2 separate regions of the Homo sapiens genome follow, and region 2 is linked to region 1. Evidence: fine-mapped expression QTL. A gene starts in region 1. The other region holds a variant in brackets. All regions are shown on one strand. Distances are between the middles of the regions.

Evidence for each region. PIP is the estimated chance that this variant, and not a neighbour inherited with it, causes the effect.
Region 2: its variant is the best candidate, but not a certain one, in a credible set for the expression of CARHSP1 in lung (TOPMed, PIP 0.54).

Annotation. Positions count from the first base shown.
Region 1 is chr16:8,866,620-8,871,124 of GRCh38, forward strand. CARHSP1 (calcium regulated heat stable protein 1) reads right to left here and starts at 2,387. Exons shown (of 4, transcript NM_014316.4): 1 at 2,347-2,387. It overlaps CARHSP1-DT (CARHSP1 divergent transcript), which reads left to right and starts at 2,662. Exons shown (of 2, transcript NR_186721.1): 1 at 2,662-2,709; 2 at 2,994-3,420. RefSeq lists enhancers at 1-544, 1,550-1,609 and a silencer at 1,750-2,709.
Region 2 is chr16:8,830,847-8,835,102 of GRCh38, forward strand. All of the region lies in intron 7 of PMM2 (phosphomannomutase 2), which reads left to right. Among named protein-coding and RNA genes, the nearest start is that of PMM2, 35 kb to the left of the region's middle. The variant T/C (reference allele first, on the strand shown) is at 2,521.

The sequences.
Region 1 (4,505 bases):
CGTCAGGCTGGCCTAGCCACATTCCCCTCCATTGTTCCGGGGAGAGCGGGGGGTCTGGCGAGGGAGGAGCAGAGAGAGAGGAGGGGGAGGGACACGAAGGGATGGGGGTTGGAGTGTCCAGGGGGAGGGACGGGAGGCAAAGGGGAGGGGGCAGCCAGGCCGGAGTCAGCCCTCCGCTGGCTAAGGACCTGAAGCCAACAGTCACAGAGAAGTGCAAACAGGCGGGCAGGGAAGGTGCAGCCCGGCGCCTACGTCTGCCCAGAGCCCCCTCCCAGGCCCCGCCAAGCTGGGAATAGCTCTTCCGCCCTCAGGAGCCCCTGAGTGCTGGGAAGAGGCCGGAAACCCGAGGAGTGTACCGGGAACCCAAGGGGGCCTCCAACATTGCCATTGCCTGTGCCCCCATTAGCACCCCTGGACGGCCTCGACCGGACGGGCGACCCCACCCAGCAGGGAGACGGTCACCCCACCGCCACCACCCACCTGGGACCCTGCGCCCGCCCCAGTTCTCAGCCTGGACTGCCCCTCCTGCGGGAAGCCCAAGCCCTCCTTCTCAACAAGAACCCTACTCTACACGCCTCCCCCACTCAATCCCTCCATCCTTCCCTCCATTCTCGGGGGGCTTTGGCTCAGACCTGAGATTGAGCCCTGACTGGTCCCCACTCCCTCTGTGACCCCTGCCAGGCGATTTCACCGCCCCACCCGAGTTTCCTCATCTGTCAAAGGGGACAGGAGCGGTGCTGCGTCGCAGGGCTCGGACGCTGTGCAGATGGTGCCGCGAAAATGCCAAGCGCACGGCGGGCTCAGTCCACAATAGTGCGGCTGATGGTGGAAGTGTCAGGCACGGGCCCATCTGAAATCACCTTCCCTCCCATTCCTGCCCCTGCTGATGGAACACAAACCAAATGCGCTGGCTTTGCCACTCGGTGGAACAAAGACCGATCCCCTACCTAGGGGACCCACCGTCAACCACCCTCAACCCCACCCCATGGCCCCACGCCAGGCCTAGCTCAGCTCATTGAAAACATCTACTCCCAGCCGGGCTCTGCGCCTCTTTCTTGCCCTGAAGGGACCAGCATCGAGAACTCACGGTCATCACCGAGGCCACCCAGGGAGTGCAGAGGGCGGTGGGGTCTCCAAGGAGGACCCCGAGCCCAGAGGAGGGCCAAAGGCCCGAAGGGAGGGAGAACAGAGGCAGAGAGAGGCTGGAGAAGGTAGTGGCGGAAGATAACAGGAAGCCCTGCTGAGAAGTTGGGGACTTAGACGACAATGGGACTTCGGTGGACGATTTTCAGCGTGGGGTAGATCTAAGCGGATTGTTTTTCTAAGTTCCCTCTGGCTTCAGAGTGGCAGCAAATGACAGGGGCAAGCAAGACTGGGCACAGAGAGACTGAGAAATATCAAAACAGCAAGTTAAAAAACAGTAGCTTACGTGTCTCCCGGCACGGGGCTAGCTGCCTCCTTTTACTCTCACACACCCTCTCATGCCAGAAGAAGTCAGAGCCCAGTCTGCAGATGGGGAAACTGAGGCTCCGAGAGGCCTCCTATTTGGCAGAGATTTCCCCACCTATTAAGACCCAAGGCCCTGCCTGGAGCGGGACGTCTCCGCCTCCCCCAGCACACACATCCACTCCAACCCCAGAAAACCATAGGGCCGGAGGCTTCCTTTTTAAAAATCAAAAAAGAACATTTCACTTCCGGCCTGCAAACCTGAACCGCCAGCGCAGCCTGCGGAAAGGGGGCCTGTGGGCGCGGGTGAAGTTTTTCTCCAGCGCCTAAGGCACCCCCACCCCCATCCGGGCGCAAACACCCGGGCCCAGCGCGCCCGGCGGCTCCTCCTCCCCCAGATGCGGCTAATCGCGCGGCGCCAGGACGGCTCCCCACCTCCCCCGCCGGGCCTGGCCGCCGTCCCAACCTCGAGCCACAGCTGGCGCGGCCAGGCCCGGCGGGGGGTGGCTCTGCTTCCCGCGTGCGACGCCCCCCGCGCCTCGCCCCACCGCCCGGCGAGTCCCCCGTCCAGGGCTCCCGCCCAAAGGCAAAAGCAGCGGGGAGGGCGGGAAGAGCTTCCCCTGCACGCAGAGAACAGGTGGCCAGGCGGGAAGTACTACCCGACGTCCGCCTAGAATCCTTGCCGCTGTTGCCACACCCACCCCTTCCCCTGGGGAGGAGCAACCCGCGTTCCCCAAACAGGCCCCGAGAAACCCAGCCCGGAGCCCTCCTCTGCCGAGCTAGAAGACCCTGCAGGATGGGGGACGATGGAGGCAGAGGAGGCCGAGGCCCCACCCCTGCGGCTCCCGGGGCCGCGGGCCAGGGGCGCCTATCCTGGGGTCCCCGAGAAGAGCTCCCTACCCTGCAATCCGTTCTGCTCCGCCAGCCGCTTCGCTCCGACTGAGAGCGCGGAGCTGGGGAGGGGGCGTGGCCCGAGGGGGGGTGGGGCGCCGATCCCCGCCCCCAGGAGCTCCCGGCCAATGGGGCTGCGGGAGGGAGCCCGGGACGGTGGGGGCGGGCGGGGCGGGAGTGGCCCGGACAGGACCTTTGTGTCCGCGCCTTAGACTGGCGGGAGAGCGGAACGCAGAGCGCGGGACGTAGGGGCCGGGGCGGGGCGGGGCGGGGCGGAGCTGGGCTGCACCCACCAGCAGAAAACGCCCCTGCAAAGTGGGGGAACTGTGTCCCTGCGCCCGTGCAGTTCCTTCCCCTCGCCACGCGCGCCAGGTGCGGCTCCCACCTGCCTTTGGCTCTAAAATCTGTATAATCCCGGAGGGTGTCACTTTTAGCAGAAAGGAAATAAAGGAATGAAAAGAGAGACGGAAGAAAACAAGCAAAAAACAGAAAGGAGGAAAAGGGAAAGAAAAAATACACACGCACACACACACCAGAAAAACAGGGTTTTGTTTTCTCGTTGGGGATTTTGATTTTGTTCTCTTCTCTTGTTTCATTTCTAGCCTTCCTTGAGTCCTCTGTTTTTGGAGGTAAAAAATGTTACCTCTGTTTTGCAGGAGAGGAAACTGAGGCACAGAGAGGCGACCAGCCCATGGGCACGGCCAGTCGAGAGCAGCCCCTGAAGGCGAGCCTAGATCCCGGGACCAGGGTCAGCTTGGTATTTGAGGGGCGCGGGGAAGGAGAGAGGTCCCCGGAGCTCGCCCGGGACAACAGGGCCCCCGGAGGCGGCGGTGAGGACTGTGCCTGCCTCACTCTGCAGCCCCTATTGGGGCCACTGGGGAAAAGGCCCAGCAGCGAAACCAACTAGTCCAAGCCAGGCAAGGAACCGTCCTAGACGGCTGGTGGGAACAACCGCGCAGCTGCTGTGGAAAAAGCCCGGCGGTTCCTCAAACCACGAGCCCTGGAGTCTCCATAAAACCCATCAACTCCACTCCTAGGTGTCTGCGCGCCCAAGAGAAATAAAAATGTTTGTCCACACAAAAATTTACTTGAGGCCGGGTGCGGTGGCTCACGCCTGTAATTCCAGCTCTTTGGGAGGCCGAGGCAGGAGGATCACTTGAGCTCAGGAGTTGGAGACCAGCCTGGCCAACATGGCGAAACCCCGTGTCTATGAAAAATACAAAAATTTGCCGGGCTTGGTGGCGGGTGCCTGTAATCCCAGTTACTTGGGAGACTGAGGCAGGAGAATCACTTGAACCCGGGAGGTGGAGGTTGCAGTGAGCCAGGATCATGCCACTGCACTCCAGCCTGGGCGACAGCGAGTCTCCGTCTCGGGGGGGAAAAAAAGTTAAAAATAAATAAATAGGCCGGGCGCGGTGGCTCACGCCTGTAATCCCAGCACTTTGGGAGGCCGAGGCGGGCGGATCACGAGGTCAGGAGAACGAGACCACGGGGAAACCCCGTCTCTATTAAAAATATTAAAAATTAGCCGGGCGCGGTGGCGGGCCCCTGTAGTCCCAGCTACTCGGGAGGCTGAGGCAGGAGAATGGCGTGAACCCGGGAGGCGGAGCTTGCAATGAGCCGAGATAGTGCCACTGCACTCCAGCCTGCCTGGGCGACAGAGCAAGACTCCATCTCAAAAATAAATAAATAGATAAATAATGATTTACTTGTTGGGCTGGGCGTGGTGGCTCACGCCTGTAATCCCAGCACTTTGGGAGACCGAGACAGGAGGATCTCTTAAGCCCAGGAGTTTATGACCAGCCTGGACAACATAGTAAGACCCCTTCTTTACCAAAAAAAAAAAAGTTTTAATTAGCCAGGAGTAGTAGCACCCACCTGTAGTCCCAGCTACTGGGGAGGCTGAGGTGGGAGGATCCCTTGAGCCCAGGAGATCGAGGCTGCTGTGATCCGTGACTGCACTGCTGCACTCCAGCCTGGGTGACAGAGTAAGATTTATAGCAGTATTACTCATAGTAGCCAAAAGGGAGAAACAGCTCAGATGTCCATCAAGTGATGAAAGGATAAACAAAATGTTGTGTATCTATACAGTAGACAACTATTCACTCATCAACAGGAATGAAATCTTGATGCAAGCTACAACATAGAGGAACCTTGAAAATATGCTA
Region 2 (4,256 bases), 36 kb before region 1:
TTGAACTATAGGCCGGGCAGGGTGGCTCACGCCTGTAATCCCAGCACTTTGAGAGGCTGAGGCAGGCCGATCACTTGAGGCCGGGAGTTTGACACCAGCCTGGTCAACAGGGTGAAACCCCGCCTCTACTAAAAGTACAAAAATTAGCCAGGTGTGGTGGTGCACACCTGTAATCCCAGCTACTCGGGAGGCTGAGGCAGGAGAATCACTTGAACCTGGGAGGCAGAGATTCCAGTGAGCCGAGAGTGTGCCACTGCACTCCACCTTGGTGACAGAGTGAGACTCCGTCTCCAAAAACAAAAAAAACAAAGTTGAACTATAAACTGAATTCCTCCCAAGGTTAGTTCAGCCTGTGCCCTGGAATGAACAAGGACAGCTTGGAGGTTAGAAGCAAGATGGAGTCAGGCCAGATCTCTTTCACTGTTAACATTTTCTCAGTTATAATTTTTGCAAATGTGGTTTCAGTCCCTGCATCCATAATACCTAGAAATTTGATAAATACTTGTTAAACAACCAAAATAAACATCCATAGCAAGAATCGACTATAAGGCATGGTGGTGCACACCTGTAGTCCCAGCTACTCAGGAGGCTGAGGTGGGAGGATCGCTTGAGCCCAGGAGGTGGAGGCTGCAGCAAGACATGGTCGCACCAGTGCACTCCAGCCTGGGCAAGAGTGGGACCCTGTCTCAAAAATAAATAAGAGTCCCGACCACGAGCTACAGAGAGTCCATCTGTGCTATAGGAGGCATCCACACAGCACACACCCACTGCTACCAGCGAAGCAGTTCACGCAGGCTGTGATAGATCACACTGTTCCTCTCTTTGGATGATTGGGGTTCACTGCTACACTGCACAGGTCAGCAACAGCATGTACAGAAATGGGCTGCGGTGGGGAGACTCATCAGCCCCCTGGCATCTGAACATGGCCAACACTATGCCTTCTGTTTCATCCTCAGACTTTGGGACTATTAGGGATTTAAATATTAATGCGCGGATTTCACTGAGCCCTGGCCTCTCTTTGGTGCCTGTCAGGTACACTATAATGAGAAATTGGATCGTTCATTCTTCCCTCCCCCCTTCCCTCCCTTCTCCAGGGAACAGGGTTTTTGTTCTTGGAGCTTGGGAGGTGGCTGAGTTCCCCAACTAGAATCAAGTAACCTTTAGTGCATATGCAAATCCAGCATTTGAAATTTCCGGTTCTCTAGCCTTATTATTCTAGAGGGCAGCCAGCTTTCCTTTCATTTCATTTGGGGTCCGCTTCACTTGCTTTGCAGCTACTCTGGTATGCAAGCTCGACACAGCCCCAAGAAGGCTGCACCCCAGGAAGGAGCCCACCATGCTCTGAGAGTCACAAAGAAAGAAGCAGACCCTTGGCGGGAGAGAAAGGAAGGCCTGAGGCAGGTTGTGTTTGTGATGCAGATGCTCCTGCGAGCCGTGCGGCTCTCTGAAAGCGGGTGGAGCTGAGAAGCAACCCAGAGAGGCTCCTGCAGCCAGGGTCGGGAGGATTTCACCTTCCTGGATGGGAATTGATTCTCCAGACCTAGCTTTATTAAGTGTCAGCGAGTTACATGCACACAGATCACTCAGATTCCACAGACACCTCCCCACCAGCCCCCAGCAGGACCACGGGAGGAGACTCGTGCCGTTAGGCCTCTGTCCCTGCATGTGACATCTGCAGGGAAGGGCAGGCCTAGCAACTGTCAGGGGACTAGCATAAACCCTTTTTGCTTCAGGGGTCTCTTCCCAGGTAATGGCCTCTGTCCTCTTTGCACCCTGGCCGGCTGCAGGAGCCTCCTAACTGCTCCCTTCAATTGCGTCCTCACCCCGCACCCGTTCTCCAGAAAGATCCTGTTGTAAAGTAATCTGATCATGGCCCGGGCTTGCAGGCTTCAGGCGGCTACCCGTGAAATCCCAGGTGCTTACCACAATCTGTGAGGCCCGCTGTGGCCCGGCCCCAGCCCCTGCCCATCCTCCCTCTTCAGCGTCTTCTCTGATGGCCACATGGCCTGTGCCCTCACGTCCCTCAGATGCCAGGGTTCCCTCACCCTCCAGGCCTGGCAGCCCTTCCCTCCCTTTGCTCAACAAGGCGCCCAAGAGCTGTCTGTTGATGACTGGTCTCCCCAGGGCAGCTGTGATGTGGTTTTGGTTTGCGCCGTATCCCCAGCTGCTAAAGCAATGCCTGGCGGGTAGAGGGTTTCGTGCGCGTCCGTGTGAAGAGACCACCAAACGGGCTTTGTGTGAGCAACATGGCTGTTTTTTTCACCTGGGTGCAGGCGGGCTGAGTCCCAAAAGAGAGTCAGCAAAGGGTGGTGGATTATCATTAGTTCTTATGGGTTTTGGGATAGGCGGTGAAGTTAAGAGCAATGTTTTGCGGGCAGGAGTGGATCTCACAAAGTACATTCTCAAGAGTGGGGAGAATTACAAAGAACCTTCTTAAGGGTGGGGGAGATTACAAAGTACATTGATCAGTTTGGGTGGGGCAGAAGCAAATCACAATGGTGGGATGTCATCAGTTAAGGC[T/C]ATTTTTACTTTTGCGGATCTTCAGTTACTTCAGGCCATCTGGATGTATACGTGCAAGTCACAGGGGATGCGATGGCTTGGCTTGGGCTCAGAGGCCTGACATTCCTGCCTTCTTATATTAATAAGAAAAATAAAATAGTGTTGAAGTGTTGGGGCGGTGAAAATTTTTAGGGGGTGGTATGGAGAGAGAATGGACGATGTTTCTCAGGGCTGCTTCAAGCGGGATTAGGGGCGGCGTGGGAACCTAGAGTGGGAGAGATTAAGCTGAAGGGAGGTCTTGTGGTAAGGGGTGATATTGTGGGGATGTTAGAAGAAACATCTGTCGTATAGAATGATTGGTGATGGCCTGGATACGGTTTTGGATGAATTCAGAAACTAAATGGAATAAGAGAAGGAGAAAAACAGGTATAAAAGGTCTAAGAATTGGGAGGACCTATGACATCTGATTAGAGAGTGCCTAAGGAGATTCAGCATAGTCCTGCCAGCAAAGATTATTTATTTACCTCAAGAGTTTAGAGTGGCAGTTTGGGGATAGCACCAGGAGATATCAGCTGTGATGGCTTGGAGAAACAGTGTAAACCGGCAGTGTAAACAAGAGCAGGGCATGTATGAGTAGTTGAGAATGGCGAATAGGAATATGACTAGACAGGAGATAGTAGGGATGACAAGTTTTGGGGGGCACAGTCTAAGTTGGTCTGGTGTCTGGAATGAGACTGGGGCCTAATAAAAAGGAGCGTCTATACAGGAGCTTACATGGGCTGTACCTTGTAGCATTCTGAGGACAGGCCTGAATTCTGAGAAGGGAAAGTGGTAAAAGTATTGTCCAGTCCTTTTTAAGTTGGAGGCTGAGCTTGGTGAGGTGTGTTTTTAAAAGACCTTTAGTCCATTCTACCTTTCCTGAAGATTGAGGACTGTAAGGGATATGAAGGTTCCACTGAATACTAAGAGCCTGAGAAACTGCTTGGGTGATTTGACTAGTAAAGGCTGGTCCGTTATCAGACTGTATAGAGGTGGGAAGGCTAAACTGAGGAATTATGTCTGACAGAAGGGAAGAAATGACTGCGGTGGCCTTCTCAGACCCTGTAGGAAAGGCCTCTACTTATCTAGTGAAAGTGTCTACTTAGAGTAAGAGGTATTTTAGTTACCTGACTCGGGGCATGTTGAGTGAAGCTAATTTGCCAGTCCTGGGTGGGGGCAAATCTTCAAGCTTGATGTGTAGGGAAGGGAGGGGGCCTGAATAATCCCTGAGGAGTAGTAGAATAGCAGATGGAACACTGAGAAGTTATTTCCTTGAGGATAGATTTCCACGATGGAAAGGAAATGAGACGTTCTAAGAGGCGGGCTAGTGGCTTGTACTATAGCATAGCCTGCCTTTGCTGCTATGTGGCGATTAGGCCTGGTGGAACCGCCATCAATAAATCAAGCGTGATCAGGGTGAGGAACAGGAAAGAAGGAAATATGGGGAAATGGGGTGAATATCAGGTGGATCAGAGAGATACAGTCATGGGGGTCAGGTGTGGTATCAGGAATAATGTGGGAGGCCAGATTGAGGTCCGGGCCAGGAACAATGGTAATTGTGGGACTTAACAAAGAGTGAGTACAGCTGAAGGAGCCGGGGAGCAGAAAGTATATGCATCAGGTATGAGGAAGAAAGTAGATTTTGGAAGTTACGAGAAATGTAGAGAGTGAGTTGAGCATAGTTTGTGATTTTTACGGCCTCTAAAAGTATTAAAGCA